Linked DNA regions of Homo sapiens. The protein of the gene in region 6 purifies or fractionates together with the protein of the main gene of each other region. This does not show direct contact. Each region holds a gene or a part of one and is shown on either strand. Other genes may lie near its edges.

Region 1 (4,714 bases), on a different chromosome or scaffold from region 6:
AGAATGAGGGGTTGGGGCCACTCTTATCTGCATAGCCTTTGCTCCCCTACCATGGAATCTGACTTTGGAACTGTGTAATATCAAAATCAATTCTGTGATGTTTGTTTTATAAGCAAAAAAAGTGGAGGACAAAAATCAGTGGGGAGACAAAAAACTGCCTTCTGCTTGCTTTGATGGTTATCAGGCATTCACCCAACAATGCAACAGAGATGGCACTCTCAGACAATGCTTTTGTAACAAAAGGTTAATAGTCTACCCAGGGAGCCCAAAGTGACTTTACACCCAAGAGAACTGTCAGGTATGTGCTATGTAGACCACTGCTACCCAGGAACATGGCTTTCATAGGCAATAAATAAGCAAAGCTCACTGTTCACTCAAGCAGGCTGAGCCCTTGAAAGGCAGGCTCTGCTGCTCACTCTTGGCTAACTGCAAAGATGGCAAATCTTCATCCTCTGATGGGAGGCATGATTTCTGCAGGTAGTCCGAAATCATTTAGCAAAGCGTCTAATGATGGATCAAAATGAATTTTTGATGAGACTATAAAGTAACAAAACTGACGTACTGAGAACTGGCTCAAAGTAATCCAATAAAAATCAGTATTACTTTTTAATTTTTTAATTTTTATTTTTTAAGACAGAGTCTCATTCTGTTGCCAAGGCAGGAATGCAGTGTCACGATCTCAGCTCACTGCAACCTCCACCTCGTGGGCTCAAATGATCCTCCAAACTCAGCTGGGACTATAGGCATGCACCATCATGCCTGGCTAATTTTTATATTTTTTTTTTATAGAGATGGGCTTTGCCATGTTGCCCAGGCTGGTCTCAAACTCCTGGCCTCAAGGGATCTGCCCACCTCAGCCTCCTAAAGTCCTCCTAAAGTGTTGGAATTACAGGCGTTAGCCACTGCACCCAGCCAAAAATCAGCATTCCATTTTAAACTAATATATTAATAACAAGGCATTATTTTTATCTATGATGTGCTTGATATAAAAAAATATGCAAAGAAAATCAACTCTGATCCCATCATGCTGTATGAGCAATTTGGTGTCTTTCACAGCTTTGTCAAGGCATCACTGCAACAGGCAGGCAGTTACCCAAGCACACAGCTTCAGAGGTCAATTCTCACTAACAGTTTGGTATGTTTCTCTAGGGGGTTAAAAAAAAGTCAGGGGATCCTGCTCATCGTGTGAGTCACACTATGCAGGGGTATGAAGGGACAGAGAACAAGGTATGTGTGGAGGTGTCCGGGAGACTGGCAGGGGGTGGTGCAGACAGAACGGTAACAAGACATTTTGTCTGGGGGCTGGTCGGGCAGGGAGTAATTACAGAGTGCCACAAAAGCCAGGCCTAAACCAACGAGTCAGGGACAGAGACAACAAAGGAACTCCTCCTTTTCCCTCGTGTACAGAATGAATTCATGGAGGAGAGGGACTAGATTCAAGAATAGACGGAGGCTGTGGCTGGGCTTGGACTGGGCCTAGAGAGCTTTGTTATTTTTATTTTTTGAGACAGAGTCTCACTCTGTTGCCCAGGCTGGAGTGCAGTGGCACAATCTCTGCTCACTGCAACCTCTGCCTCCCAGCTTCAAGCGATTCTCATGTCTCAGACTCCCAAGTAGCTGGGACTACAGGCGTGCACCACCATGCCCGGCCAATTTTTGTACTTTTAGTAGAGATAGGGTTTCACCATGTTGGCTAGACTGGTCTCCAACTCCTGACCTCAAGTGATCCACACACCTCAGCTTCCCAAAGTGCTGGGATTACAGGTGTGAGCCACTGCACCTGGCCCGGAGTGTTTTTAGACAGGGGTTTTCAAACCAGTCCCATCTGATGAGCGCCACAGGAATTACGGAGGGACGGGCCGAAGGGAGGGTAAATGAGATAAAACCTGCAGAGTCGGGTGGGTTGCTGGGTCCCCAGCCCTACTTCACCTCCAGCAGCTCTTTTATGTTTGACATACTGAGATTTCCAGATTTTACTTAACAGGAACTCCACTGTTAAAGTCAGTAGAATTATAGTAAATAATTCCAAAGTTCATGAGAAATTAGTCACCATGGACACTACCACAAACACCCCTGAGAGCCACTCTTAAAATCTGGATCTTAATTTCTTCAAAGGTCCAGAGAGTTGCAGGGGGGAAGAAACCTCAGGGCTCGAAGTGTCTCATTCTTCTGATGCAATTCCATCTGCTCCCAAAAGTGGGGTGAGGCAGCGGGCAGGTTAGAATTATGTCATGCATGGATTGTTCTCGTGCGTGACAGGGAATCCAATAGGCTTCTACAGCTCTCAGAATAAGCTCTTCCATAAACAGGAAAGCCCCTGGGCCTGGGAGACGCTCTGGTGGCATTAGACACATTAGTTATCAGGAGGCAGGTCCTACCTTGCTAACCAGGGCAGGCGCAATAGTTTTATTGATGTGCTCAACAGCCTTTGAGACACCTGGAAGGAACAATCAAATCAAATTACTGACATTAACTTTAAAACAGGCTTGAGCAGCATTGTTAGAGAGAACCACTGTTGAGGCCGACGCGGAAGCCCACCAAGGGACCTTCTGTGGGACCTCTTCCCCCTCTCCCCTTTCCCCCCAGAATCGGAGGACTTTCCGGCCCAGTCTGAGTGCTCCTACCTAGGACCCCAGAGGGTTAGAGCCACACAAAACAGCAGCTGGCTCAGAACGATCTGACTGGAGGTTAGTTTGCAAGACCATGCACTGGAAACGCCAACTGCAGACTAAAGGCTGTTCAATCAGTTACCTGAGTGCACAGGGCTGGTGCCAGGAACTCATTAATATACTTAATGGGTCTGGAGACGCCTGCCCAGCAGAGGATGAAGAAGGAAAAATGAGAGAGACTCAGAAGAGAACCGGTGATTAAGGACTGCGAGTGAGAGACAGTGAGGGGGCAGGAAAGCAGAGGAGAGCATTTCAGGGGCCATGCGTTCAATCTTCCACAAATGCTTACTTACTGAGCACTCATTACCATCAAGGCACAGCATCATCCTGCTCCGGCTAAGTCCCCACGTACGCCATTAAACAACGGTCAAATGGTAACATGTTCGTGTGTGTAGAGTGCTTCTTACAGCATTAAAGCGGGACTGAACACCCAGCACCACCACTGCGACACCAGCCCAGTGTTTCACAACCTGATTTCATCATTGTCCCCTCCCTGCAGCCTTTTTGGAGTTTTCCGGGTGCCCCACTGAGAATGCGTGATCTAGCCCTATGTGCTTTTCTGTAATTTGGCCACATGTTCTATCTCTAGAAAGGTCAATGTTGCACACACACTAAGTCAATTTGAATACAGCCAGAGGCTAGCTCTGCCACAGAGCAGGGCTCCTATGAGTCAGTCAACAGGAAAATCACACTAAATGACACACCTGCAGCTCACCATTCAGGGCAGGTCATTGGTTAGACCTTCCCTGGATCCTTTCTAGCCCGTGAAGAGGCTGATGATCTCTGGAGGGCCCACAGAACCCTCCTGGGAGATGGGGAAACTTTTCTTTAGTTAACAGGCCCTGTTCTCATGCTTGGGTTCCTGTCCTAACCGTGAAGGAGTATTTCGCAGATTGGGAACAAACTGCAATAGAAGCAAGCATTGGAACTCTCGACCCAGAGCATGCAGGCTCGGGAACCCCGGAATCCACACACCAACTTTCCTGTCCACAAGGTGGTGCACTGCTTCCATCAACATCATGGGTCACAGCAGGTTTACCTGCCATAAACCTGCAAGTGCAAGTGCCACCCAGAGAGGACAGGACTGGGCAAGGCCAGGAATGGGGCTGGAAGCAGGGAGGCCATGGGCTGTGGGTTCTAAGGCTTACCCTTCCCCATATAGCGAGTCTTATCATTGTCCCGGAGCTCTAGGGCCTCATAGATACCAGTTGAAGCACCACTGGGCACAGCAGCTCTGAAGAGACCTGGATGAGAGGAAAAAAGATGTAGTAGCAATTCAGAAATCCAGTTCCAGCACAATCCCAAGTCCCCTCCCGCCCACAGATGCATTTGTCATTAGGGAGCTGTTTCTTCCTCCTACCAGCTGTGTGAATTAAACGCTCTGGGCTGTTCTTCATGCCTTTCACATGTTTATGATCCTGTACTGCAGAACTTACTGCAAAGATGACTAATTCCTCTAGCAGAAAGAAAGTGTTCTACAGCAGAGCCTACATGCCACCTGGAGGTCTTGTTAAAATGTAGATTCTGACCCAGGCAAATATGCATCCCTCACAAGCTCGCATTGGTGCCCTGTGGATTACTCCAGCAGCACTGCCCAAGAGAAATCCAATGCGAGCCACACAGGGCATTGAAGACGTTCTGGTACTTTTTTTTTCTTTTGAGACAGAATCTCGCTCTATCCCCCAGGCTAGAGTGTATGGCGTGATCTTGGCTCACTGCAATCTCCACCTCCTGGGTTCAAGCGATTCTCCTGCATCAGGCTCCCCAGCAACTGGGACTACAGCAGCCTGCCACCACGCCCGGCTAGTTTTTTTATTTTTAGTAAAGATGGGGTTTCACCATGTTGGCCAGGCTGGTCTTGAACTCCTGATCTCAGGTGATCTGCCCACCTCGGCCTCCCAAAATGCTGGGATTACAGGCATGAGCCACCATGCCCAGACAGGTACTATATTGATGTTAAGCATAAAATTAGGGTAATTTAACTGGCTCAGGAGGAGTATCTAGCTCATTTGTTTCAGTTTGGACAATGCTAAATGCTATTTTAG
Region 2 (4,714 bases), on a different chromosome or scaffold from region 6:
ATTATTTTAAAAATGAATAATAAAAAGATAACTTAAAAATCAACATTTTGAAATTTTACAAATACACTTTTAAATGGTTCACTAAAGGAATCATCATAGAAATTAGAAAATATTTAGAACTGAAGACTAAATACTACATATAGAAACTTGTGATGTGAGCTAAAACAGTATTAGAGAAGACATTTACAGTTTTTAAACTGTTTTATTAGGAAAGAAGATGAAAATTAATGACCTGAGAAATTGGGGGTCAGAGAGAATAAATCCAAAGAAAAGGTAAGAAAATAAAATAACTAAACCTGTTAGCAAGCTAATTTGTTTAAATAAATTTATGTTATATCTTATCTATAGAAATATGTCCAAAAAAGGTTCTACCCAAATTATTCTAGTATCTATATTATTGAACCTCAACTGATCATCCCAACTGGCTGGTTAATTCCAAAGCCCAATACATATTTATCACAATGCTAGCATGGCTCTCCCCATCCCCATCCTCTTAACGACACAGACTTCTTTGGAGTCAAGTTCTCCAACTAGAACCTTAGGTAAGAACCCTTTCTCCACCCAACTAATTGAAGATATGATCCTCCCAAACCCCGACCTCTGTGTGACCTTGAGACTTTGAGAAAAACTCAGATTCTCCTGTAGAAGGAGGCTGTGCTTTGAAAAGAAACTCAGAAGTTCACTCAGGTTGTCCATGAGTTAAGTTGGAAAAAAATCCAACAAACTCAGTAAGAGATAACTGTAAAATCTCTGAATTATGTGGAATGGCTGCAAAACAAAAACAAAAACAACAAAAAAACACCTGTCCTTTCTTTCATTCCTTTTCTACTTAGCACCCTTTGCAGCTACCTCCAGCTGCCAGTGTGGGAAATTAAGGTGAAGGCTGGCAGAAAAGCAGCCTGGCTCCTCTTCACACTGCACAGTTTTTGATGGTGACATCACATTTCCATACCTGCACAATTTATTGCAATGGGCTTCATCTGAAACTGATCAACCTCTCAAATCTTACATGTCGACATTACAATCTGACCATAACCTCTTAATTTTGCAGTTTTCTCACTCCTTCACCCCATGATCCCTGTTCCTCAACATTCTGAAAACTTCCAGGCCTTGATCCATCAGCCCCTCCCACCCAGACTCCCATTCCTACCGAACGAGGACTCCAAAGACGGCCACTGAATCCCCCTCTCACTGTGGAAGCCATGCAGATCCAAAGCCCCCCACACTCACAGACCTGAGACAATCCCATGGTCTGGCAAAATCACATAGCCAGGCAAAATTGCGGTCACCCTACACGTGGTTATTCAATCTCAGCTGGACTCTCAACGCCACTCTCCAGTCGCTTTCTTATCCCTGGCTTAGTCTGAAATTGGAAAAGGGTTGTTCCTAAGCCTTTCCATTCTCCTCAAGCCACCGTTCCAACCCTGTGGCCTCTTACTCTCCTACCTCATAGAGAAGAAAATAAGGGAGATCTATCAGGCTTGGTTGAAACTACTCTGGCAAAGGTCATGAATGAATCATTCTTTTCTCAGCTTTTCTCGTGGCTAGCTGCCTCCCACCAGTCAGACTCCAGCTCAAATGCTACCTTCACAAACAGCCCTTAACTGACCCGCTGGAGAAAGCCATTCTCCTACTTACTCTCTCCATAGCCTTGTTTCATTTCCTCATTGGACATTTCAGAAAGGCAGAGAGACCTGGCCTGTCTTCTTCACTGTACTATCCCCAGCACCTAGAGCACAGGGGGTGCTTAATAAATATTCCTTAAACTAATTCTGTAGGAAAACTAGCTCTGATTTACTGAAGTTTTGAATTATTCATGACCTTCAGTAGCACACTCCTTGTGTAAAATTCAACACCCCTTTTCCGATTTCAAACCACGACCATCAACTTTTCTTCCTACTTCCCTTCATCGTCAGTTTAAGTCCCACACGTGCCACCTTCTTCAAATCATTGCCACCTCTGTCTACCATTCCCTCAAACCTATTTTGTCATTTTAGATTTTTCTTTTAGTATCTGGCTTACATTTTTCCTCTCTACATTATCCCTCTCTACATTATCCCTTATGATTTTCAATAACTTCTTCTACATGGTCAGTGACAAAGTCGGTGACTCCAACATTCATGTCAGCTGCTAACCACAGGACGACCCCAGCCAGCCTCAATCTTACCCTAATTGTTTCCTCTTAAAAACCTCAGCATTCATCTTTCCTACTTCCCTACTACATCCAGTGAAGCTGTTCATGCTGTCCACAGAAATTTCTCAGCTTACAGCCCCTCCACTTTACTCTTGGGTATGCACTTGATTTTTGACCGTTTTGCTGTCTGCGTCCAATTAATGCAACTCTCTTTACCTTATTAAACCTTCTGGTCTTCCTGTTACATGCTCTCTCCCACCTTATTATGCTCCAGAAGACCACTACAAAAGTCTTCAAATGCCATTTTATTATATGTAATTGCAGCCTGTATTATTTAAACTTAATGTGTTAAGATTCAAAGAAAAGCAAGACATGGGTAAGCAAGCAACAAATCTTTCTATCTTAAAGAGAAATAGAAATGTTAAACAGAGAGTTTGGGTATTCCACATTCTCATTTGATTATGACAAGATGTATAATTTACATTAATTCCTAGCTACCACTTCACATGATTATTTGGAAGAAATACTTACATAGATTAGTCCTGAATAGTAGCGATCCTTCAGATTATGTAAAACGGAAGCTTCATTCAAGCATGTCAATTCTGCCATATCCTCCACCTTGGAAAACTTAGGTGGGTTCATCTTCTGAATATCATCTTTGTTGACCATTGCTTTCTTTCCATTCTCTGCCAACTCCACCATAACTTCATCTCCCCGTTCTTCTTTGATACTAGCTGCCTCAAAACCATGGCGTTCTGATGGAATCCACACTAGCTTTTTAGCTGTCCAATCAGCTTGAGTGGCAGGGTTGTAGATGACAGCCCTGTCCACAAAGAGATACCTCTCTGGATCCTCGAGTCCAGTTCTCTGCGCCATTGTAAATGGAACGATCCAAAAGCAATTGCCTCTAAGAGAAGAGGAGGAGGGCAAAATTAGATGTTTAAGAAACAAAAGAATGTACACGTTTTTCTTTTCTAAGAAACTTAAAACCTTAGATTAAGCATTAACTCTGTGTTAAGGAGCTGGGGTATACCTCTTCACAGCCATACTAACCGAGTTTCCAAGGTAAATTTCAGCGGTGACCACAAATTATGGCTCTGGTTGTCTGATGGGTTTGCCCTCAGTTACTGAGGGCAAAAAAAAGAAAAGAAAAGAAAAGAAAAGGCAAAGTTACAAGTTGACCCTTTTTTTTCTTTATCTCCTCTTTCACCCTCACCACAAATTAAACAGGGAGTTAAGAAGGGAAAAAAAAAAAGAAAACAAAGATGGGTAATAAAAGGTTCATGAAGTGGTACCAGAATTAATATGACCACAAGGAAACAGCTACAAAAACACATGATTGTCAGAAGAGTAAAGAATCTAAAGAATCTAAAACATGCCTCTCATTCTACCCTCAGATAACAGACTTAAAGTTCTTCTTATGAATAACCCAAATCAGTCTCCCTCTAGCTTTTCTATGGCCCCATGAGGTCTTAATGTGATCAACTGGGACCACAAAAGACAAGCATAACTTGGCTTCACACGGCAGCCTTTTGAATATGTCATGGTAGCAGTTCAGGCCTCTATTCCCATCCTGCAGCTCCTCCACCCCTCATTCACCAAGACTCCTTCCCCTGCCGGATCTCTCGCCTAAACAGACTCCAACATGCTGCTTGTCTTCCCTCTAAAGTGTGTGGCCCAGAAGCAAACATCATAGCCCAGATATGGTCTGACCAGTGCAGAAGAAAAAGGAACCATCAACTATCTTAGCCACATTGAGGAAAGTACTGGTTCTGTGACATTTACAATTAATGTATCTCAAGACCTAGTTGTTTTATTTAGCACCCATTTACCATTGGCTCACAAAGGGCTAGCAGAGGAAGCTCCATCACTTTGTGGCTAAGCTATGTCCCCTCCTCTACTTGTGCACTGGCTTTCTGGACCAAATGGCAGGATTTTACATCCATCATCTTTCTAATGTGACTCATCATGATTGCCTGACAGGATCTTTTTGGGATTTGATACCAACTTAAACATTTTTGCTGCTACTCCAAATTCCAGGTTATTATAAATTTCATAGGCATGGCTTCCATCACTTCATTCAAACCAACAGAAGAAGCCAACTGAGTACCTACTCTTGCTCTATCAAATCCCCACTTCTCCCCTCTGTTCACTCCACTCCCCTAGCCAAAAATGCTAGAGGTTCTTTGTAGGCAAGAGGAAATCATAAAGTAGTCTAAGGTTGTTAAGAGGTTCTTGAGTCCATCAGCTAATCTCAACTTCAACAAAATCCCTGAAATGGTATAAAAATATTATGCACTTAGCGTGTGTATATATGTGCTATAACGTTCTCTAGATTCTAAAGGGCTCTATCTGTATCCTAAAAGATTAATCACTGATAGTGGTTACACATTCAACCAACTTCTGGGCACAATGGCCCATAACTGTTATCTCAGCAACTTGAGGGGCTAAGGTGGGAGGAGTGCTTGAAGCCAAATATTTGAGACCAGCCTGGGCAACATAGCAAGATCCCGCCTCTACAGAAAAATTTAAAAATTAGCCAGGCGTGTTGGTGCATATCTAGCCCTTTAACTACTACTA
Region 3 (4,714 bases), on a different chromosome or scaffold from region 6:
AAGTGAGTGCCCAGGGCCCACTGTGGTGCTCTTCTTCTTCCCTGACTACTATGCAGGCATTACGATGGACAAGGACTCCAATTCTTTTTTCTTACTATTTTTTGAGACAGGGTCTCACACCGCTGCCCAGGCTAGAGAGCAGTGGTGCAATGACAGCTCACTGTAGCCTCAACCTCCTGGGCTCAAATGATCCTCTCACTTCAGCCTCCCAAGCAACAGGGACCACAGGCACGTGCTACCACACCCGGCTAATTTTTAAAACTTTTTGTAGATGTGGCGTTTCGCCATGTTGTCCAGGCTGGTCTTGAACTCCTGGGCTCAGGTGATCCTCCTGCCTCGACCTCCCAAAGTACTGGGATTACAGGTGTGAGCCACCATGCCCGGCCAGAACTCCAATTCTTGCTCCCCAGTTCTCTAGCGACGGGAGATGGGACCCAGGGGCCATCCATTCTCCTCACTAAGCCTCAGTTTCTTCATCTGTACAATGGACTAAGGGCATCTTCCCCTCAAAGTTGTCATAATGATTTAAAGAGCTCATATTTGCTAAGTGGCATCAATGATAATAGTGACACCTACTGAGCTCTTAGTGGACGGCGGGGTCTGGGCTACACATTTTACAAATTATTAATCCTTTTAAAGCAACCCTGCAATGCAGGTATCATTAGCCCCATGTTAACAGATCAGAGTCAAATTTACTGAAGATCAATAATAAATACATATCAGAGAGAAACCAAAGCATGTCTACACCTCTCCTGGGAGACTGGCTTCCAATTTTTTTTTTTTTTTGAGACAGAATCTCACTCCATCCGTCACCCAGGCTACAGTGCAACACATCTTGGCTCACTGCAGTCTCCGCCTCCTGGATTCTAATGATTCTCCTGCCTCAGCCTCCTGAGTAGCTGGGATTACAGGCACGTGCCACCACACCTGTCTACTTTTTGTATTTTTGGTAGAGACAGGATTTCACCATGTTGGCCAGGCTGGTCTCGAACTCCTGACCTCAGGTGATCTGCCCACCTCGGCCTCCTAAAGTGCTGGGATTACAAGCATGGGCCACCGTGCCCGGCCTCAATTTATTTCTTATTTATTGTTTTGAGACGGAGTCTCGCTCTGTCACCCGGGCTGGAGTACAGTGGCACAATCTTGGCTCACTGCAACCTCTACCTCCTGGGTTCATGTGATTCTCCTGCCCCAGCCTCCCAAGTAGCTGGGATTACAGGTGTCTGCCACCACACCTGGCTAATTTTTTTCTGTATTTTTAATAGAGAGGGGGTTTCACCATGTTGGCCAGGCTGATCTCGAACTCCTGACCTCAAGTGATCTACCCACCTCGGCCTCCCAAAGTGCAGGGATTACAGGCATGAGCCACTGCACCCGGCCTCAATTTATTTCTTATTTTTTTATTTTTTTGAGATGAAGTCTTGCTTTGTCACCCGGGCTGGAGTACAGTGGCACAATCTTGGCTCACTGCAACCTCTACCTCCTGGGTTCACGTGATTCTCCTGCCCCAGCCTCCCAAGTACCTGGGATTATAGGCGTCTGCCACCACACGTAATTTTTTTTTTTTTTTTTTAATAGAGACGGGGTTTCACCATGTTGGCCAAGCTGATCTCAAACTCCTGACCTCAAGTGATCTACCCACCTCGGCCTCCCAAAGTGCAGGGATTACAGGCGTGAGCCACCGCGCCCAGCCTGGCTTTCAATTTTGAAGCAGCTGTGCTGACTGGGGGCCTCTGGTCCCGGTCCTGGGTGCTCTCACTGACTCGGGCTCCGAGGGGCTGGGCACTGCTGGGCCCTCTTGCAGGTGCACAGGCCTGCACCCCCCAAAGGCAGAGCTGGGATCTATGGAAAGAGGTGCAAGAGGCCAACCTTGCCTAGGAGCGAGAAACAGACGTCCCCGGGTCGGGGGGCCCCACTTCCACCGCCTGTATGGTTCTGCAGTCACCCCGAGCCCCTGAGCTGAGAGTCCTGGGGTTCACAAGACTCTGCTGTTCCTCCTGGTCTCGCTTCATTGACCTGTTCATTTGCTTTTGCTCAGCAAAGCGCTGTGGACTCAGTGAATGAAAGGCTCGGGGGCACGATCACACGGCTGTTCGGGGCAGCACCACAGCACAGGCAGGCGAAAGAGCAGGTTCCCCATCAGAAAGGTGTCCGTGTGCGCACCAAAGCCAGGCCCAAGAGGACACTGGGAGCTGCCCGGTACCCACTGACAGGAGGGTGGCCAGGCCGCCATGGTACACTCTGCAGGCATTACACAGCAGTGAGACCAGATTACAACCACCTGTGTCAACAGGCATGACTCACAAACATGACATGCGGAGAAAGAAGCCTGAAACAACATATACTGCCCGATTCCAATGTATGAGCTGTGAGAACAGGCAGAACCACCGACTCCACACACATGAGCTGTGAGAACAGGCAGAACCACCGACTCCACATGCACGAGCTGTAAGAACAGGTAGAACCCGCCAACTCCACACACACGAGCTGTGAGAACAGGCAGAACCCAACTCCACACGCAGGAGCTGTGAGAACAGGCAGAACCACCGACTCCACACGCACGAGCTGTAAGAACAGGCAGAACCCACCGACTCCACATGCAGGAGCTGTGAGAACAGGCAGAACCCGCCCGGGAAGTTTGAGGAGACAGAGCAGCAGCTGCCCAGGGGGAGGTTGAGCCCTGGGGTGGGGTGAAGGGGCCTCGGTGTTCTCATCACACTCTGTATCTGGGGGCTGGTGAAACCAGGTGTTCAGTCTAAGAAGAATCAAACTGTGTACACGTCTGTGTTTTTCTGTATAGACGTTATATTGAAAACAATCTACTAAAAAGGAAAAAGTGAGACTGGGGACAGGGCTTCGCCGCTGGCAAACTGTGTGACCCCAGGAAGCTTCCTCCCCGTCTCTGAGCTTTGGTTTTCTGAGTGGGTGTGAAGGTGATCGGCACCTTAGGATCCTGAGGTGTCACGTGACCGTGAGACACAGGGCTCCGGCCACCAGCGCAGAGCCAGCAGCACACAGAGCCAGGTCCCCCTCCTGCCAAAGGCACACAATGGGCTGCCCAGGAACACAGAGCGTTTTGTCCAGGGCTGGAGGAAACAGAGGGCAGGGAATCCAGGACATCCCTCCCTGGGAAAGGCTGGACTGGGGATGTCCCTTGGGCCCTGGAGCACTCGGGGTTCCTGGCATCCTGTCCCCCTGACACTGCAGCTCCTGCCCATCCACGCTCCCCTGCTAGGTGCAGGAGGCCCGGCTGGTTGCTATGGCAACCGGGTACCAGCGGGATGGGCATGGGGAGGGGGCGGGAAGTAGCCAGGCTCCCGCAGAGGACTTGCAGTGCGCAGGCGACTCCGCGGGTCCCCCACCTCCACCGAGCGCTCAGGGCTTTTGCCAGGGGGGGTCTCCCCGTCTCCCCATCAGCGCCTCCAGCCTGCCCCCTGCAGGCCACCCTCAGCACTGCAGCCCGACAAGCTGGGAAAAATGCCAAGTTGGGGCAGCCCCAGGACCCACCCACCAGGCCCCGCAATCTCCATCGGCCTAGTCTGGCAGGTCCCATGTGGCACTCGTCACACACCCTCCCACTCTGCACTCACTGGTCCCTCCACGGGGCGTGTCCTCAGCCCACTGCTGCCCGCTCTCTCTGTCCTACAACCCGCCCGCCAGATGTCACCTTCTGCACTCCCCCCACCACCGCCGCCCTGCTCCTCTTCCCACCATCACAGCACTGATGGCTCCATAGCACTGGCCATACCGTCTGTCTATCCAAACAGACTGAGGCCAGATATGAGTCATTTCTGTGCTCCCAGCACTGAGTGTGGGGGGGCATCTGCACATGGCTCACAGTGGGTGTTCAATAGAACATTCTAGCATGTAAACAGCTGGACTGCCACCTGCTCCCGTGGGACTCAGGCTTCCCTCACTGACCTCGACACCCCCAAATTTTCAGCAGATCCTGGATGTGACCCCATCCCCTCTGCTCCAAATTCCTCAGGCCTAGATCCAGGGCTGCGCTTTCTCAGTGGAGGGCTCTCACCTTTAACTTCTGCTCCACCCAAGATGGACCCCTCATCTGCCGTTCCTTTCTCCTCCCCCTACCCCGGCCTATCCAGGGTGCACACAACCCGTCCTCCCACCTCCCTGTCTGCCCTCTTGACCAGAGTCGTGACCTCTCTGGAATCAAAATTCAAAGTACAGCTGAGAGTGTCTCAAATGCACCAAGTCCTCGTTAGAGCCCTGGCTTGCAACAGACTCTGCCTTGGGGAAAAGACCAACATTTGGGGGTGGGAGAAAAGTTCTCTGCAACCTGAACTCCAGCAGAAGCTGAGAGGCCACAGTGGACGGAGGCAGGGGTGGGGTCCACAGCCCTGGGACGACAGAGGGCCTGAGCCTCCGAGTTCCGGTTCCCATGGGTGAGAGGAGTCCCTCCCCCAGAACTGTGCAGAGGTGAGAGGAGCCTGTGCCCGCCATGAGGGTCACGGGCAGTGAGGATCCTGAGGCACCATCCACCCCCCTGCCAAGGGCACTCATATGGTCACACTAACCCCAAACATCCCAGCCTCCCAGGTGTCCAGAATGGGAGGGCCCTCACCTTTCGGGGCACCTGCCCTGATCCCCTTTTACCCCAGAGAGGAGATGACCTGGCAGTGTCATATGGTAAACCAGGGAAAAACAAGACTGGCCTTGAAAGCTGGTCTCTCGATTGTACACCCAGACAGGG
Region 4 (3,500 bases), on a different chromosome or scaffold from region 6:
CATTATCTAAAGAAATCTAAGTTTTTGAAAGTTTTTAAGATCTATAGAAATGACCGGATCTATAGAAACGGCCGGGCGCTGTGGCTCACTCCTGTAATCCCAGCACTTTGGGAGACTGAGGCGGGTGGCTCAGCTGAGGTCAGGAGTTCGAGACCAGCCTGGCCAACATGGTGAAACCCCGTCTCCACTAAAAATATAAAAATTAGCCGGGCATGGTGGCACATGCCTGTGATCCCAGCTACTCAGGAGGCTGAGACATTAGAATCGCTTGAACCTGGGAGGGGGAGATTGCAGTGAGCTGAGATCATGCCACTGCACTCCAGCGTGGGCAACAGGGTGAGACTACATCTCAAAAAAAAAAAAAGATCTATACAAACATGTATTTATACATTTTTACTATTTGTATAATCGTTAAAAATTAACAATTTTAACTAATATTAACTAATCACCTCCGAATGAAGCTAGTTAAAAAGCTGAAACAGGCCAGGCGCGGTGGCTCACGCCTGTAATCCCAACACTCTGGGAGGCCGAGTCGGGCAGATCACGAGGTCAGGAGAGCAAGACCATCCTGGCTAACACAGTGAAACCCCATCTCTACTAAATAAGAAAAATTAGCTGGGCGTGGTGGCGGGAGCCTGTAGTCCCAGCTACTTGGGAGGCTGAGGCAGGAGAATGGCGTGAACCCAGGAGGCGGAGCTTGCAGTGAGCTGAGATGGCAACACTGCACTCCAGCCTGGGTGACAGAGCGAGACTCCATCTCAAACAAACAAACAAACAAAAAGCTGAAACAGTCATTACAATCTAATTTAGGTGCGAAATTTAACACTGCATTGTCTTCTCCATACAATGCTATAAGCCCCAAATAAGCTTTAAAAAAAAGTCAATGAAGAGATTCTGGTAACATATTTCACTTCCCTCTACCACATACTGCCTGGTTAACCCAAGCAAATTGTCGTTAATCTTGTTGAAGCCCTCCCTAACCAAAAGATAAAGAAAAAGTTTAAGCTAGTAGTTCTCTAATTCCAGTTTGCACATAAATCAAAAGGGAAGCTTGCCAACATAGTGAAACCCCGTGTCTACTAAAAATACAAAAATTGGCTGGGCATGGTGGCACGTGCCTGTAGTCCCAGCTACTCGGGAAGCTGAGGCAGGAGAATTGCTTGAACCTGGGAGGCAGAAGGTGTGGTGAGCCAAGATCGCGCTACTGCACTCCAGCCTGGGCAACAGAACGAGACTCCATCTCAAAAAAAAAAAAAAAAAAAAAAAGCCAACTTCAAGATTCCAACCAAATCACTAATATATTGCTCTTCTTGCTTTTCGATGAAAATTCCACATTAAACATGACAAAAAAAAACACAGTAACAACAATAATAATGAATGTACACTATGTGCTAGCCAGTGTGATCTGTGTTTTACATGTATTATTATCTAATTCAATCCTCATAAGAACCACACCAGGTAGGTAATATTGTTACTTCCATTTTATAGATGAGAAAACTGAAGCCTAGAGAAATGAAATAATTTGACCAAGTTAATGAGTGACAAAACCAGGATTGCCTCAGGTCTGCCTATCCTCTTACCCAGGAGCTGGACAAGAAAGCACTGTGCTTAAACGCAACTCTGGAACCCCAGGGCTGTCAGAGAGAGGATTAAGCCTGACGACCAAGTAGTTAGGCAAGTAATACCCTCCCATCTCCTTCCAACCCCAATTCCCACCCCTCACCCAACAAGCTATCCTGACTCCCCACACCCATCACTCCCACACCAAGGTCGCCCACCTCTGTGATGTGTCACACATCCTAGCAGAACATCAGAAGTCTGTCTCTATGTGTGTGTGTGTATATATATGTGTATACATATATATACACACACACACACAGACTTCTGATGTTCTATATGTATATGTATATATGTTCTATATGTATATGTGTGTGTATACATACACACACATATATTGTGTATATGTCTATATACATATATACACACACATATGTATGTATGTCTATATATGTATATGTATATATGTCTATATACATATATACACAATATATGTGTGTATATATGTGTGTATATACATACACACACACAACACACATAAGTACTCTTGTATATACATATATACACATATATACACAATACATATTGCGTATACATATATATACACACTATATATGTGTGTATACATATATACACATATATACACACTATATATGTGTGTATACATATATACACACTATATATGTGTGTATACATATATACACACTATATATGTGTGTATACATATATACACATATATACACACTATATATGGTGTGTATATATATGTGTATATATATATATATATACACACACAACACACATAAGTACTCTTTCCACATTAGTATCTACTACCTGCTTAGTACTAGCAGAGACCCAAATTCCAGCACCACCAAATAAGCTTGAGCAAATTTAACATCTCTGCCCCTCAGTTTCCTAATCTGTAAAATGAAGGTCATAACACCAGCACCACTGAGGTGACACAGTGATTGAGCTAATGTATACAAAAATACTCACTTGGCATAATATCTGACATGGTAGTAAAAGCTCAATAAACAATAGCTGCTATTGGCCAGGCACAGTGGCTCATGCCTGTAATCTCAGCAGTTTGGGAGGCGAAGGCGGGCAGATCACCTGAAGTCAGAAGTTCGAGACCAGCCTGGCCAACATGGTGAAACCCCACCTCTACTACAAATACAAAAATTAGCCAGGCATGGTCGTGAGCACCTGTAATCCCGGCTACTCAGGAGGCTGAGGCAGGGGAATCGCTTGAACCCGAGAGGCGGAAGTTGCAGTGAGCCAAGATTGCACCACTGCACTCCAGCCTGGGTGACAGAGCGAGACTCCGTCTCAAAAAAAAAGAAAAAACAATAGCTGCTATTAAAATTATACTTTGCTAACCTCTTCTCTTACAACACCAACATATCAGTCCTAGTCCCATTTGTTTTTTGCTTGCTTGTTGTTTTTTTTTTTTGAGACAGAATCTGGCTATGTTGCCTAGGCTGGCCTCAAACACCTGGGCTCAAGCATTCCTCCTGCCTCAGCCGCCTGAGTAGCTAGGACTACAGGTAAGCATCACCGTGTCCAATTCTAGTTCCCATTTATTTTCTCTCAGTTTTCTTTGCTAAAAGTGTGATAAATGATGGAACATACTTATATTTATCAAAGCAGGTTGGTAACAGCGCCATAACCCAATAGTCTGGGAGTCTTCGACAGATAGGTCAGAAATATTCCAGAGCAAGTAAGTCATGCAGTAGCCTTTAAATTGCACAATTTTGACAACTGCCTATTTCCCAACTTTAGGGTCAGCCCTGTTGATTACATCCTAGTATGAAGAGTCTATAATTAACTTAATTCAAAACAACAATAAAATGTCAGTACAGGGGCTTGGTCTTAATTTAATCACTGTATCCCTAGAACTTAGAATAGTGCCTGGTCCGTGGTAGACACTACAGTACGTTTTA
Region 5 (4,714 bases), on a different chromosome or scaffold from region 6:
AAGTATTGGCTCTGTCTGGATCCTCTGGTTGTGGAACTATCACAGCAGATGATGAACTGCAGCTTCTAAGAGGTTAGATAAGAAAACAGTTAATATCAGCCTGTCATAATTACAACTGTCATATATAATGCTTTCAAAAAATAAAGTATGAATATGTTCCTACTAAGTCCAGTATTAAACATAGGTTTTCAGAAGGTTCAAATCTGTAAAACGAAATAAAAGAACAAAACAAAAGCAGATGTGACTTTGGATACTAAAATATCTGATTAAAAGATAAGGGTGTTCTTTAGCCCAAAGATTACTGACACTAACACTCGTAATCACAAAACAAGAATTAAGATTACAAGAAAAACAACACTTAATTGTTCGGAACCAGAGGAAGCCAGAATATTGATGCCCTATTCACAAGCACAACTGCTTTGTCAAAGCTTAGAAGAAATAAGCATTAACATACGCACTTTCAAAATGAAGGTTAGAGATTTTTATATTGTAGTACTATCAAATCTTCAAAGTTAACATTGCTTTCCAAAGTCTCTTAACAATTAAATCTTAAGAATCACTGACTTAAACCTAAACTATGGCTCTGACAATAAAAACTAAAAAAAAGATTAAAAAATAAAAAGAAATAAAAAATGGCCATAATGGTTTGTTAAGCAAAGGGGGAATCTTACGGCTCTCCAAACAAAAATATCATTTTATCATTGACAAACTCACTGTCTAGGGTATACTGCACTAATCACTGCAAAGGTGATAAACTGTCAATCCTAAAAGTTACTTAGAGAATAATGAAAATATGTATCAAAACGTTTTGGAATAACCTCAAGTTTTAACATTATGCAATGATTTGAATGCAAATAATTCTGCCTTGAAAATGTATAAGCAACATGAAGATTTACCTTTTAGAAAGGTGTCCCCTTGACAGTTCAGAAGTAGTATTAGACTGCACTTTGGGTGCCTTAGAATTAGATTTTCTACTCTCAGGAGGGCTATATCCCTTATGTTTTGCCTGCCCTAAATGTGACCTGTCAGCAGAAAATCAAAACAGAAATCTATCAGGAAACTGAGATGCAAATACAATACTGAAAATGAAATATTTTTATATATTTCTTAAAGCTTCCCACAATTCATTGTTGACCCTACCCTTTTTCCAAATATTTATAAATTTTAATTATTATTCTACTAAATAATCTGGCAAAAAGAAATTGCCTCTCAGAACCACCCCCGCCCCGCAATACCGAAGAGTTTATTATCACCAGTAGTCATAATTGCACAGCGTTGTTAAGGTTGCTTAAGCAGTAACACATTTTTCAGCAATTTTAGTGCAGATATTCAAATATGCTACATTTTAACAAAAAGCAAATTTAGACTTTAGATCTAAACACACTTTTAATACATAATGTGACTGTAATGGCTTTAAAAGTTTACGGAAAAGACAATTGATGATTCCCACACTGATACCGATTTCCAATTTGTACTTAAAATTCAGGTAAACACAGCAAATGCAGAGACAGACGAACCAATTCTCAAACTGATTTTACACAGAAAATCATTTCAAGCACTAAACAATAAATAAACCTACATGAAATCAACATAGTGATACTTGCTAAAACTTTAAAGTACTTGTCAACAGAAAGAACACAAAAAAGTCCTGGAGAAATATGGAATTTACCACAAAAGTTCCAAAAAACATTCAAATAATTCCATGATTGATATGGTGCATCATATTTACAATAAATCAAATCCTTATGCCAGCACTATTCTAAAAGCAAGTTTGAGGAACATGAAAAAACTGTTTTCAGTTAGATTATTTTTTAGACCTTGGGGAATGGTTACATGAGATTTACATAAGCAATAAAAAACAAACACATGTTGATATCCAGAAAACTGCTGCCATTCGGGTGAGATATTAATGTAACAAATGCAATTTATGTAATTCATAGCTGATATCCACTTTCCACATAAGAGCATATACCAATGAAAATCTAGAAAAAAGTTTCATTAATACCAAATTTACTTGTTAAAAAAAAGTTTAAGGCTTTTATTCCAAACACCATCTCAAAAGAACTTAGAAATGAGTCACTGAAAATCTCACAAAATAATTCTAACTCAATCTGTAAGGATGCCATAAATTTCTTAAGATATCATACAAGTACAACCATCTGTTCCAAAAGAGGACCTAAGGTTTCTCTTTTCTGTATCACTTCTTCTTCCATCTTTCCAGAATTCATGAAAAGAGTCTTAAAAGAAGGTAAGAAATTAGCTTCTTAAGAAAGGAAATAGTTCCTGGATCCCTCATATCATTTTTGTTTTTAAGGTTCTAATCTGAAAGTAATAATATGTTCTAAAGACTTATTAGAATAGATGAATTTCTTAAAAAAAAATAACAAAAAAACAAAACTCTAGGTGAGCCTTTCAAGTGTTATTAGTCTTCACTTTTAGTAATGAAAGGACACATATACTTCAAGAAGCATATTTTCTAAAGTTGTAGCTAAGCTGAACTTTGTAAGATTTTTTATACATTGTGTTTTTGTTGTTGTTGTTGTTATTTTTTATTTTTTGGTGTTTCAGACAGGGTTTTGCTCTATCGCCCAGGCTGGAGTGCAGCGACACTATCTCGGCTCACTGCAACCTCCGCCTCCCAGGATCATGTGATTTTCCTGCCTTGTATATATTGTGATTTAATTTTAATTTTTCCTAGATATTCTCCCATTGCAGACTAAAATTTTGCTTTAACCAATGAGTTTATTAGAGATTTAATTTCTAAGAGTTGCTTTTGTTTTTGTTATATTTCTACTAACAGATCTCAGAGTTCAACTCTTTTTTCTTCAGAAATGAGACTATTTTTCAAATCATTCCATAGTTATTCTAAAAAAGAGGTGTAACGTTCTGTTTTTGGGGTGTGGAATTTAACAGCTACAGGAAATATAAATTATGTCATTCAGGTCCTCTACATTCTTATTTTCTTAAAGATCGTTGCAGACTGATGTTTTAATTAAATCACGTTTTCTACTTTATTTCATTTTAAAATTTAAAATATAGCTTGTTGCATTCCTTGATAATTAAACAACTCATTCTGAAAGAAAACTACATACATTCAAAGCTAGACAACTTTGTGAAAAATAAATGCCCAAAACAATTAAAAATTATGATTCATTCCATTTGTCATCAGAAACCGGCCCATATGAAACTAAAGGTGAGGTCTGGGGCAGCAGCCCTCCTCTTTTTAACTCAAATAAATTGTTCTGTTGACTTTTATATAGCTTATGTTAGATCCACCTAATTCTACTCCTGTGTTATTTCTCATGCCCTTACTAATACCTTCAATGAACTTAAGAACTTAGCATGTAAACTCTCTATATTATACCACAAAAAGTAAACAGTATTCAAATCATTTAGAAAACCAAGGCTCACAAAACTGGCTTAAATTCAGCAATGCCCAGCAGGGCACGGTGGCTCATGCCTGTAATCCCAGCACTTTGGGAGACAGAGGCGGATGTGTCATGAGGTCAGGAGTTCAAGACCAGCCTGGCCAAGATGGTGAAACCCCGTCTCTAATAAAAACTACAAAAATGAGCCGGGCATGGTGGCGCACACCTGTAGTCTCAGCTACTTGGGAGGCTGAGGCAGAAGAATTGCTTGAACCCAGGAGGCGGAGGTTGCAGTGAGCCGCGATCGTGTCACTGTACTCCAGCCTGGGTGACAGGGCGAGACTCCATCTCGAAAAAAAAAAAAGAAAGAAAGAAAAAAAAAAAATCAACAATGCCCACACTGATCTTACCTAAAATTATTTTAAAGTGTGATATTCTAAGGACTGTTTAAAAAATATATTTTAAAAATATAAAATATTGATACTTAACTGTCCCTTCTGCCTATCTGTTTAGCCCATGGGACTTAATACATTTTCCATAAAGGAGAGTAAATATTTTCAGCTTCCTGGGCAATACTGTATGTCAAAAAAACAGGTACAGAAAATTCTCAAACAAACGAGCATGGTGGCTATACTTCAATCAAAATTTTATTTACAAAAACAGGCAGTGAGCCAGATTCAGCCCATGCGCTATAGTTTTCAACCCTGGCTAACAAGGAATAGACAACCAGATGGTACCATGAAGTGACAATATGGGGCCTCCCAAAATGGAGCTCTATTTTATTATGTCCACTTATAAATTATTAATGCTCAAAAATGCTGCAAAGTAAATCTCCATAAAATAATGATGTCCAATCTGGAATAGCCAATTAGAACATCACAGTATTCAGAGGTAAAGGAGCCTTGGACGCCTCCTTTTAGCTCATTTTACCACCTCTCTAATTTAGCAAGCCTTAATCCTTCAACTTTAGTTTTTATTAAAAAGCATAATCTTTTTAAAACCTAGTAAAATTTATATCCACTATAAATAAAATTTGTAGAACAGTATAGTAAAATGCATGACAAACTCTTTTAAATAGCACTAGAATGAGGTCATTTAGTAAATTATAGCCCAAAGATTTGGGTGAAAGAGAGAGAGAGAGAGAGAGAGAGAGAGAGAGAGAGAGAGAGAGTGTGTGTGTGTGTGTGTGTGTGTGTGTGTGCACGCGCACACGTGCACACATGTGTTCAGGAGCTTCTATAACAACATATGGGTATTCCTGAAAAAAAAACTCATGTCTCTGCAAAATTATCCACTAAAAATAACCGGGCTGATATGTTAAAAATAAGATGGGCCCAGAGCACACA
Region 6 (4,124 bases):
AGGAAGGGCAGTACCTACAGACAGAGCCCGAGTCAGCAAACGGACTTTTTCTTTTTTTTTTTTTTGAGACAGAGAATCGCTCTGTTGCCCAGGCTGGAGTACAGTGGCGCGATCTCGGATCACTGCAGCCTCCACCTCCTGGGTTCAAGCGATTCTCCTGCCTCAGCCTCCCGAGTAGCTGGAATTACAGGCATGCACCACCATGCCCTGCTAATTTGTGTATTTTTAATAGAGACAGGGTTTCACCATGTTGGCCAGGCTGGCCTTGAATTCCTGACCTCAGGTGATCCACCCGTGTCGGCCTCCCAAGGTACTCGGATGACAGGCATGAGCCACAATGCCCAGCCAAAACAGACTTTTTCTGAGCACCTACTGTGCGCCCTTTGTACTGCCTCTCACGTGCCATGTCTGGCTCACAGAAACACTGCTCTTACTATTAGCCCATCTAGTATTCTAGTTTGCTCTGTTCCTGTTAAAATCCTTTCACTCACTCGTCAAGTGCTTACTATCTTTTGTATATGTGCTCATACTATTTTTTGTATTTTTGTTTGATTTCTGTTCCATGAGATGCTAGTCTTATTTTAGAGCCCACCTCTATCCTTCTAGTTTCCTCTCTTCGTATTTTAGTCATTCATTCACTCCCCAGTATTTATTGATTGCTTGTTTAACCCTTTGGAACTATTTTGTATTTCTGTTCCATTTCTGCTCCACGGACATGCTGCTCTTATTTCTGAGACTAGGGAGTGTGGTTTTGGTTCTCTTTTTGTTTATTCTGCAAGTGTCTACTGAGCATCAACCGAACACTCAACACTATTATAAACAGGTAGAAGCAACACACAGTGAACTTAAGTCTTCACCCTCGAGGAGTTGACTCTAACGAAGATGACAAATAACACAAAAGTGGATACAGGACATCACATCAAGTGGCATCGCTGAGCTAGAAAGTAATGCTTGGCTAGGAAGAAAAGAGCAGAGAGGGGATGGAGAGGGATGGTGGGGAAGGGTGATTTTTAACAGGGTAGTCAGAGGAGGTCTCTCTGATGAGGTCACATTTGATCGGAGACCTGAGCATCGTAAGGAGTGAAGTCCTGTAGATCACTGGGAACAACATTCCTGGAGAAGGAACAGCACAGGCCAAGGCTCTGGGGTAGGAGTCTGCTCAGGAGATTGGTGGCCAGGTTGGCAAGAAGGGTTTGAGTGTGGAGGAGGGAGGAGGAAGGTATACTTAAAGAGCTAAATATAGGCCAGGTGTGGTGGCTCACGCCTGTAATCCCAGCACTTTGGAAGGCCAAGGCGGGTGGATCATCTTTAGTCAGGAGTTCGAGACCAGCCTGGCCAACGTGGCAAAACCTGTTTCTACTAAAAATATAAAAATTAGCCAGGCATGGTAGTGGGTGCCTATAATCCCAGCTACTCAGGAGACTTAGGCAGGAGAACAGCTTGATCCTGGGAGGCAGAGGTTGCACTGAGCCGAGATTGTACCACTGCACTTCAGCCTGGGTTGACAGAGCCAGACTCTGTCTCAAAAAAAAAAAAAAAAAGCTAAATATAGTAGTTCCATCCAATGAAACCCCCACACACAGGCCCCGCTCTGGCCCCTCACCAGGGGTTTTCCTTCTCCAGGGTCTCCACAGTGGTGAAGAGCTCAATGCACTCCTGCAGCCGCACGGGAGCCTTCTTCATCACGTACCCGACGCAGTCATGCTTCACGTAGCCCTAGGATTGGGTGAACAGACAACCAGATGGCCGGCTGTGAGGACAGATGGAGAAATGGGGAGTGGGGGCCCAGCGGGGGAGACACACACTGAGTGGGTCAGAGCACCGACTTTGAAGCTAGGAACCTCAGGCCCTGGAGCTCTCAGTAGGTGTTCAGGCCCCAAGGCCAAGCTTGACCTGGATCTCTTGGCTCTGTTCCCAGCTAGAGGAGTTGTGGGGAGGATGTACGAAGAGTTGAGGGGCAAGAGCTGGAAGTACCCCCCATCCCTGGGATCTCATTTACCTCAGCCTCTACCTCGTCATAGTAACGCTTCTTCATCTCTGGCTCCCAGTCGATAGCAATGTACGGCTGGGCTGGGGGTGAGGGAGAGGTGGTCATGGATCCTGCTGCCAGGAAATCTCCCCTCCAGCCTCCCCAGCCCTCGCTGATAGCCAAAGGAAATACCATGGACTTCTTCAGGGGAGGTTGTGCGGTCGCTGGTCCCATTGGAGTTCACCGTCTGCAGGGTGAACAGCTGCTTGCGTCGTCGCCTTGGGGGCCACTGAGATGTGCCAAGGCAATTGTCCAGGAGGAACGGGCACCTGTTCGTGACTCCAGAGCTGGGCCCAGCCTGCTCTGGCTCAGGGTCTCGGAGGCTGCCCCCAGTTGAGGGCCCAGGGACGTCATCTTTATCCTCCTCGTCATCTTCTAGGACAGGAGGATGTCAGAGATGGGAAGGTGTGAGCCTCAAGTGCTAAGCTGCAATGCACACCTAGACGAACCCTACGTGGGTCAGACCTAACCCAGAGCCCCCGCCCACTGACTGTTAGCCCCCTCACCTTTCTCATCCCCATCGTCCTCATCATCTGAGTTGGGTTTGGTCACGTAGCGTCTGCAACAGAGCAGAGGAGACTCCCAAGACGGGTACAAGGACAGTGGGGATAGAGCCCGGGATTTTACTTAAGATAATGGGAAGCCATTGGTAGATCCACATGTAAACCGTTCTGAATCTGAGGTGTGAGAGGGCTGAAGGGGTGACGCGTAAATGCATGAAGAGGCCAAGGCTGTCAGCAGTGGCCTGAGAATGAAGGAACTTGTGTCCCAGTCAGAGGTGTGGAGTGTGATTAGCTGGGCGTGGTGGCGCGCGGCTGTAATTGCAGCTATTTGGGAGGCTGAGGCAGGAGAATCGCTTGAATCCGGGAGATGGAGGTTGCAGTGAGCCAAGATCATGTCACTACACTCCAGCCTGGGCAACAGAGCAAGACTCCATCTCAAAAAAAAAAAAAAAAAAAGGTATGGAGCGTGGACTTTTACTCTAATAAGCCACTGCTAGACAAGACACATACCGGCTGTAACTTCCCATCAGGGAAAGCCTCTGGGGAATGACTTTTGAATGCAAAATGAGGGGGGAGAATTCTGATAACACAATGCTTTGTGTGCCACAGTAAAGACTCTAGATTTTAGGCAAAATGAAAATTTGTCAGCAAAAAGACAAAAAAACCAAGACTCTCCCAGGAGGGACAACAGTCTCCAGGAGAGACAACTGAAGACAAGATGAAGTTGTCTGTTTTGTGCATCTTGTTCACCTCTGTATCCCTAGCACCCAAGACAGGCAGTAGCAAAGCCAGAGGTCTAGAGAAAGAAAAAACCCTACAAGTTCTTCTATGGCCATGTTAAGTTTGGACTGTCTTTTGTTTGTTACAGGGGAGGTGTCAAATAAGCAGCTAAACACCCAAGTCGGAGTTCAGACCCCTCCGCCCCCCACCCCCGGGGAAGAGGACACTTACGAGAGCCGGTACATCAGGACGTTATACAGGCCCTCCCAGGTGAAGCGGTCCCGGGGCACTGATACCAGGAGGGGGTGTCCAAAAAGCATCAGGCCGTAGTAGGAGTTGTTGTAGTCACGGGCAGGGGTGCGCTCCCGCAGGTAGACAGGAACCACGATGTCCTCTCTTGAGCCCTCAATGGCCTCAATGCGACCTGACACCTCATAGCTGTGGGGGGTGGACAGCAGGCACACCTGATCAGGGCCCCCAGAGACTCCCTGACTCTGCCCTGGCTGCCCCACCCACTCATCCTCACAGCCTGAAGGCATTTTTATTTTTATTTATTTATTTATTTATTTTTGAGACGGAGTCTCGCTCTGTTGCCCAGGCTGCAGTGCAGTGGCACGATCTCGGCTCACTGCAAGCTCCGCCTCCCGGGTTCATGCCATTCTCCTGCCTCAGCCTCCCGAGTAGCTGGGACTACAGGCACCTGCCACCACGCCCGGCTAATTTTTTGTATTTTTAGTAGAGACGGGGTTTCACCGTGTTAGCCAGGATGGTCTCCATCTCCTGACCTCGTGATCTGCCTGCTTCAGCCTCCCAAAGTGCTGGGATTACAGGCGTGAGCCACCGCGCCCGGCTTTATTTATTTTTGAGATGGA
Region 7 (4,714 bases), on a different chromosome or scaffold from region 6:
CTGAGGCAGGAGAATCGCTTGAACCCGGAGGCAAAGGTGGCGGTGAGCCGAGATCATGCCACTGCACTCCAGCCTGGGCAACAAAAGCGAAACTCCATCTCAAAAAAAAAAAAAAAAAGTACATCTGGTCTTCAATCCCATTTCCCTGGCATAGAAATCCTAAATCCTTATAATCTCCTAAGTGGAGACTTTCTGTATGCTAACGAGTTGACTGCTGGCTGGCAGGCCCTAGGTAGCTTCAGGTGTGGGGGGATGGTCACCAGAACCACCAAGGAAAGATTAGAGGGCTGAAACTTTCGGTCCCACCTCCCAGCCTCTGGGGAAGTGAGAAGGGCTGAAGGTCAAGTCACCAATGGCCAACGATTTAATCAATACTGAATAATGAAGTTTCCATAAAAACCAAAGGACAGGGTTTGGAGGGCTTCCAAATGGCCGAACAGGTGGAGGTTCCTGAAGAATGGTGTTCGAGGCAGGGCATGGGAGCTCCCTGCTGCCTCCGCCATATCTTGCCCTACTTATTTCACCAACTGTATTTTGTAGTATTCTTTATAATAAACTGGTAAATGTAGGTTTTCCTGAGTTCTGTGAGCCACACTAGCAAATTAACTGACCCCAAAGAGGCAGTCATGAAAACCATAACTTGAAGCTAGTCAGTCAGAAGTTCTAGAGGCCCAGACTTGCAAGTGGTGTCTGAAGGGGCTGGGGAGTCTTGTGGGACTGAGTCCTCACCCTGTGGAGTCTGACGCTATCTCCAGGTAGTGTCAGAGTTGAACTGGAGGATACCCTGCTAGTGACTGCTGCAGAACTGATTGCTTGCTTGGGGTGTGTGGAAAAAGTCCCCCACCTCCACCCCACATTTAGTCACAGAAATCTTCTTTGTTGATTGTTGTGGTATGAGAGAAGAGGAAAATTGTTTTTTTTTTTTTCCACTTACATACCAAAAGAGGGAAAAAAATATCTGGTACCCCAGAATTCTACATCCAGTGAAAATATTCTTAAAGAAGGTAAAATAAAAATATTTTCAGAAAGAGAATAAGAGAATTTGTCACTAGCAGATCTACAAGACCATAGAGAAGAGCCTAAAAGATAAAGAATAGAGGGAGACTTCAAACATGTAAAAGACATTTGCAAAACTGTTTTCTCTACCAGAAGGCATTTTTAAGATGATCTTGCCCAATCCCTTCATTTTACAGATAGGCAAACCAATAAAATTAAAGACTGTAAGATACTATAATTACCCAGCAGTTAATCTACCGGAAAGTAAGTCTATCGAGTTCTTAGTCAAAGGAATGGAAGGAAATAAGATTTCTTTCATAACGAGTCAGAATACTGTCATAAACAAGGCAGAATACAAAAATTCAGTAACAGGACCCTGTTAAAACTGGCATAGACAGGCTGGGCACAGTGGCTCACACCTGTAATCCCAGCACTTTGGGAGGCTGAAGGGGGCGGATCACTTGAGGTCAGGAGTTCAAGACAAGCCTGGCCAACATGGTGAAAATCTGTCTCTACTAAAAACACAAAAATTAGCTGGGCGTGGGCCAGGCGCCGTAGCTCCCACCTGTAATCCCAGCACTTTGGGAGGCCGAGGTCAGGAGTTCGAGACCAGCCTGGCAAAAAATGGTAAAACCCCGTCTCTACTAAAAATACAAAATTTAGCTGGGCATGTTGGCAGGTGCCTGTAATCCCAGCTACTTAGGAGACTGAGGCAGGAGAACTGCTTGAACCCAGGAGGTGGAGGTTGCAGTGAGCACTGCACTCCACCCTAGGTAACAGAGCAAGACTCCGTCTTAAAAAACAAAACAAACAAACAAACAAAAAAAACCTTATTTCTTAAAAACTACTAGAGCCTAGTGTAGCGGCACACACCCACAGTCCCAGCTACTGGGGAAGAGCTGAAGTGGGAGGATGGCTTGAGGCCAAGAGTTTGATTGAGCCCCAAAAAGAAAAAAGGCAGAAAAACAAAACAAAAATCCCCCAAAACAACCTACTAGACAGAGGTATTTGTTGCATACTTACGTAATATAATTAAGATAATCATGACATAAAAAACACAAAAATACTCCATTGCATAAAATACTATTTTGTTATATAAGGACATGTCAGCCAGGTGCAGTGGCCCATGCCTGTGATCCCAGCACTTTGGAAGACGGAAGTGGGTGGATGGATCACTTGAGGTCAGGAGTTCAAGACCAGCCTGGCCAACATGGTGAAACCCTATCTCTACTAAAAACATAAAAAATAGCTGGGCATCATGGAGCGTGCCTGTAATCCCAGCTACTCGGAGGCTGAGGCAGGAGAATCGCTTGAACCCAGGAGGCGGAGGCTGCAGTGAGCCGAGATCACTCCAGCCTGGGCGACAGTGCAAGACTCTGCCTCAAAACACAAAGAACTTGCCAGAAGTGGTGGCATGCACCTGTAGTCCAGCTACTAAGGGGGTTAAGGATGAAGGACTGCTTGAGCCCAAGAGTTTGAGGCTGCAGTGAGCTATGGTTGTGTCACTGCATTCTAGCTTGGGTAACAGAGCAAGACCTCATCGCTTACGGGGCAGGGGGAGTGTCAATGGGAGCAAACATGTCTAAAATATTACTGATTTTTCTATTTTATTTAAAGTATTATCATTGGTAATGAATGGAACATAACAGACTCTGAAATTTCTGGTGTATAAATACATGAAATAAAGCCATAAGACACAAAGATTAATGGAATTTCTCAAGCCCCTAAGACAGGTATATAATAAGGATGCAATCCACATCTTCAGAAATTTTGTCCAGTGCTGAGACAAAACAAGATGCCAAATTTCATTACGAAACACGATATATCTGAAAACAGTGAAAAATTACTATCTTGAGTCTCTTACGCATATTGAGTTTGTACAACTTTACAACATACATCTCAAGTGCTTCGCCATAGGTACTTACCCCAAAAGCTGGAACTTCTTCACTCTTTATTTCATTTATTCGAACCAAATAGTTAACAAAGTCTCTGGCAGCATTGCTTTGTGCATCTTTTTTATTGGTGGAATTTCCCATGCCAGTGTAATTATAACCTTCCACCTGAACCTTTAAAAAAAAAAAAAAGTACTAAGAGACTGACCTGGGTAATTCTGAGATTTTAAAAAGTCGTAATTCAGTAGTCCATTAAGAGACAACAAACAGCTAACTTTAGGAAATATACTCTATAAATATAAATATAAAAATAAGAGAATGCATGAGCTACTGAAAAAGCTTAAATTGTGTTGTATCCAAAAATAATTTAAGTGGCTCAGATTTTTTTTTCTCATATAACAGAAGGTTCACATTAAAATCTGATTCTGTAATATCCATGAACAAGCTCTCCATTTGTATTTAAGCACTTTGATTTGAAGCAATCAAGAATTGCTCTGCTTTCTAAACGTGCTTATAAAACTGCAAACAGTTGATCCAACTTTTCCCATCCCCACTACTGGTACTGAGGAAGCTGAGGAAGATATAGGCTCTAATTAGAATAATTTACCTGTCAGATTGTTTTAAAAGTAATGCTGACTTGAAAATGATTTACAATAGCAGTCAAGTCACAATAAAGAACTGTCGTTTCCTAATGTGCAACACATTAACATCTCCAAACAGAAAACATTTTTCTTTTAACCCCAAAATGAACCTCATAAATCACATAAATGCAAACTGTATTCTTCAGTACCTCACACATGAATTTCTGCCTGTTTTTGTTCCCCACTGCTCTAATTTCATAGGATGGGGTCATCTTCCTTTTGCCACACCAGGCATACAGAAAATTTTTAACGTCACCCATGATTCAAGTGTCTTCTTCAGATCTAAGAAAACAAAAGTCAGTTAAAAACAGCATTTATAATAGCAAAAACTGGGAGGAACCAATTATCTAGATTACTGAATCTGGGTTAAACATAGGATATTCTATCATGTTGCTATTAAGACTCCCCATAAATTTTAACGACATAATTGGAACGTTTATATGTTGTAAGAAAAAGGATACAAAACGGTATGATTTGAACTTCATGAAAAGTACATATACATGATCAAGACTGGAAAGAAATACCCCCTAAAATGGTTATCTTTGGGGACTAAGAGTGATTTTTATCTTTTCTTACAAAGTATTTTATATAAGGCCCTATATTCTACAACGGGCACCTTATATATTTAACTCAGTTCATCCTCACAACAATGGCACACAGATATGGTGGGTACTATCATTGTCTTTTCAGGAAGTAAGAAACTAAGATTTAAAAAAGTAACTTCCAAGTCACCCACCGTGGAGGCCTAAATTCAAATCCAAACTACTATATATTAAGAAAGTTATCATTTGCATATAAATTCAATGTTTTATTCTCATTCTGATTATGACCACTAGCATATTGTCCCCAAAGTTGTAGGCCATGTATTAATAATATAATAAAGTTCAAATACATTAAGCACTCAGTACTGAAGACGGTAACCTATTAACTTAAATGTTCTATACCAAATCTCTCCTTTAGGCCTTTTTATTAAAATTTGAGGATATTAAAGTTTTCTTGAAGTGCAACAAGTCTATAAAATACCACAAGATATGGAGCCTATCAGTCTAAATGCTGAGTCTAAACTGTAAGCAAGATATGAGACCACATTTATAACCAGAGAAAATAAAATATGCTATGAATTTAGTTTGCTGTGAGAAGAAATCCCATTACCAGCATTAAACCGTCTGCTTCACGTTTCACGTT

Evidence for each region.
Region 1: the proteins of USP11 (region 6) and ENO1 purify together in Homo sapiens (affinity purification with mass spectrometry, with the first as the bait; 2 studies listed by BioGRID). This does not show direct contact.
Region 2: the proteins of USP11 (region 6) and MYH10 purify together in Homo sapiens (affinity purification with mass spectrometry, with the first as the bait; 2 studies listed by BioGRID). This does not show direct contact.
Region 3: the proteins of USP11 (region 6) and KIAA0930 purify together in Homo sapiens (affinity purification with mass spectrometry, with the first as the bait; 2 studies listed by BioGRID). This does not show direct contact.
Region 4: the proteins of USP11 (region 6) and MYO6 purify together in Homo sapiens (affinity purification with mass spectrometry, with the first as the bait; 2 studies listed by BioGRID). This does not show direct contact.
Region 5: the proteins of USP11 (region 6) and TRIP12 purify together in Homo sapiens (affinity purification with mass spectrometry, with the first as the bait; 2 studies listed by BioGRID). This does not show direct contact.
Region 7: the proteins of USP11 (region 6) and DHX9 purify together in Homo sapiens (affinity purification with mass spectrometry, with the first as the bait; 2 studies listed by BioGRID). This does not show direct contact.

The regions. Positions count from the first base shown.
Region 1 is NC_000001.11:8,868,074-8,872,787, forward strand, and holds part of ENO1 (alpha-enolase), read right to left. Parts: intron 3,914-4,714; coding exon 3,818-3,913; exon of another isoform or gene 2,811-3,817; coding exon of another isoform or gene 2,752-2,810; exon of another isoform or gene 2,438-2,751; coding exon 2,379-2,437; intron 1-2,378. UniProt on the Homo sapiens protein: Glycolytic enzyme the catalyzes the conversion of 2-phosphoglycerate to phosphoenolpyruvate. In addition to glycolysis, involved in various processes such as growth control, hypoxia tolerance and allergic responses.
Region 2 is NC_000017.11:8,620,237-8,624,950, forward strand, and holds part of MYH10 (myosin-10), read right to left. Parts: intron 3,042-4,714; 5' UTR 3,011-3,041; coding exon 2,666-3,010; intron 1-2,665. UniProt on the Homo sapiens protein: Cellular myosin that appears to play a role in cytokinesis, cell shape, and specialized functions such as secretion and capping. Involved with LARP6 in the stabilization of type I collagen mRNAs for CO1A1 and CO1A2.
Region 3 is NC_000022.11:45,205,931-45,210,644, forward strand, and holds part of KIAA0930 (uncharacterized protein KIAA0930), read right to left. Parts: intron 1-4,714.
Region 4 is NC_000006.12:75,755,739-75,759,238, reverse strand, and holds part of MYO6 (unconventional myosin-VI), read right to left. Parts: intron 1-3,500. UniProt on the Homo sapiens protein: Myosins are actin-based motor molecules with ATPase activity. Unconventional myosins serve in intracellular movements. Myosin 6 is a reverse-direction motor protein that moves towards the minus-end of actin filaments.
Region 5 is NC_000002.12:229,859,510-229,864,223, forward strand, and holds part of TRIP12 (E3 ubiquitin-protein ligase TRIP12), read right to left. Parts: intron 1,023-4,714; coding exon 897-1,022; intron 66-896; coding exon 1-65. UniProt on the Homo sapiens protein: E3 ubiquitin-protein ligase involved in ubiquitin fusion degradation (UFD) pathway and regulation of DNA repair.
Region 6 is NC_000023.11:47,242,962-47,247,085, reverse strand, and holds part of USP11 (ubiquitin carboxyl-terminal hydrolase 11), read right to left. Parts: intron 3,691-4,124; coding exon 3,484-3,690; intron 2,589-3,483; coding exon 2,536-2,588; intron 2,405-2,535; coding exon 2,162-2,404; intron 2,071-2,161; coding exon 2,000-2,070; intron 1,717-1,999; coding exon 1,604-1,716; intron 15-1,603; coding exon 1-14.
Region 7 is NC_000001.11:182,841,642-182,846,355, reverse strand, and holds part of DHX9 (ATP-dependent RNA helicase A), read right to left. Parts: intron 3,812-4,714; 5' UTR 3,790-3,811; coding exon 3,679-3,789; intron 3,063-3,678; coding exon 2,922-3,062; intron 1-2,921. UniProt on the Homo sapiens protein: Multifunctional ATP-dependent nucleic acid helicase that unwinds DNA and RNA in a 3' to 5' direction and that plays important roles in many processes, such as DNA replication, transcriptional activation, post-transcriptional RNA regulation, mRNA translation and RNA-mediated gene silencing.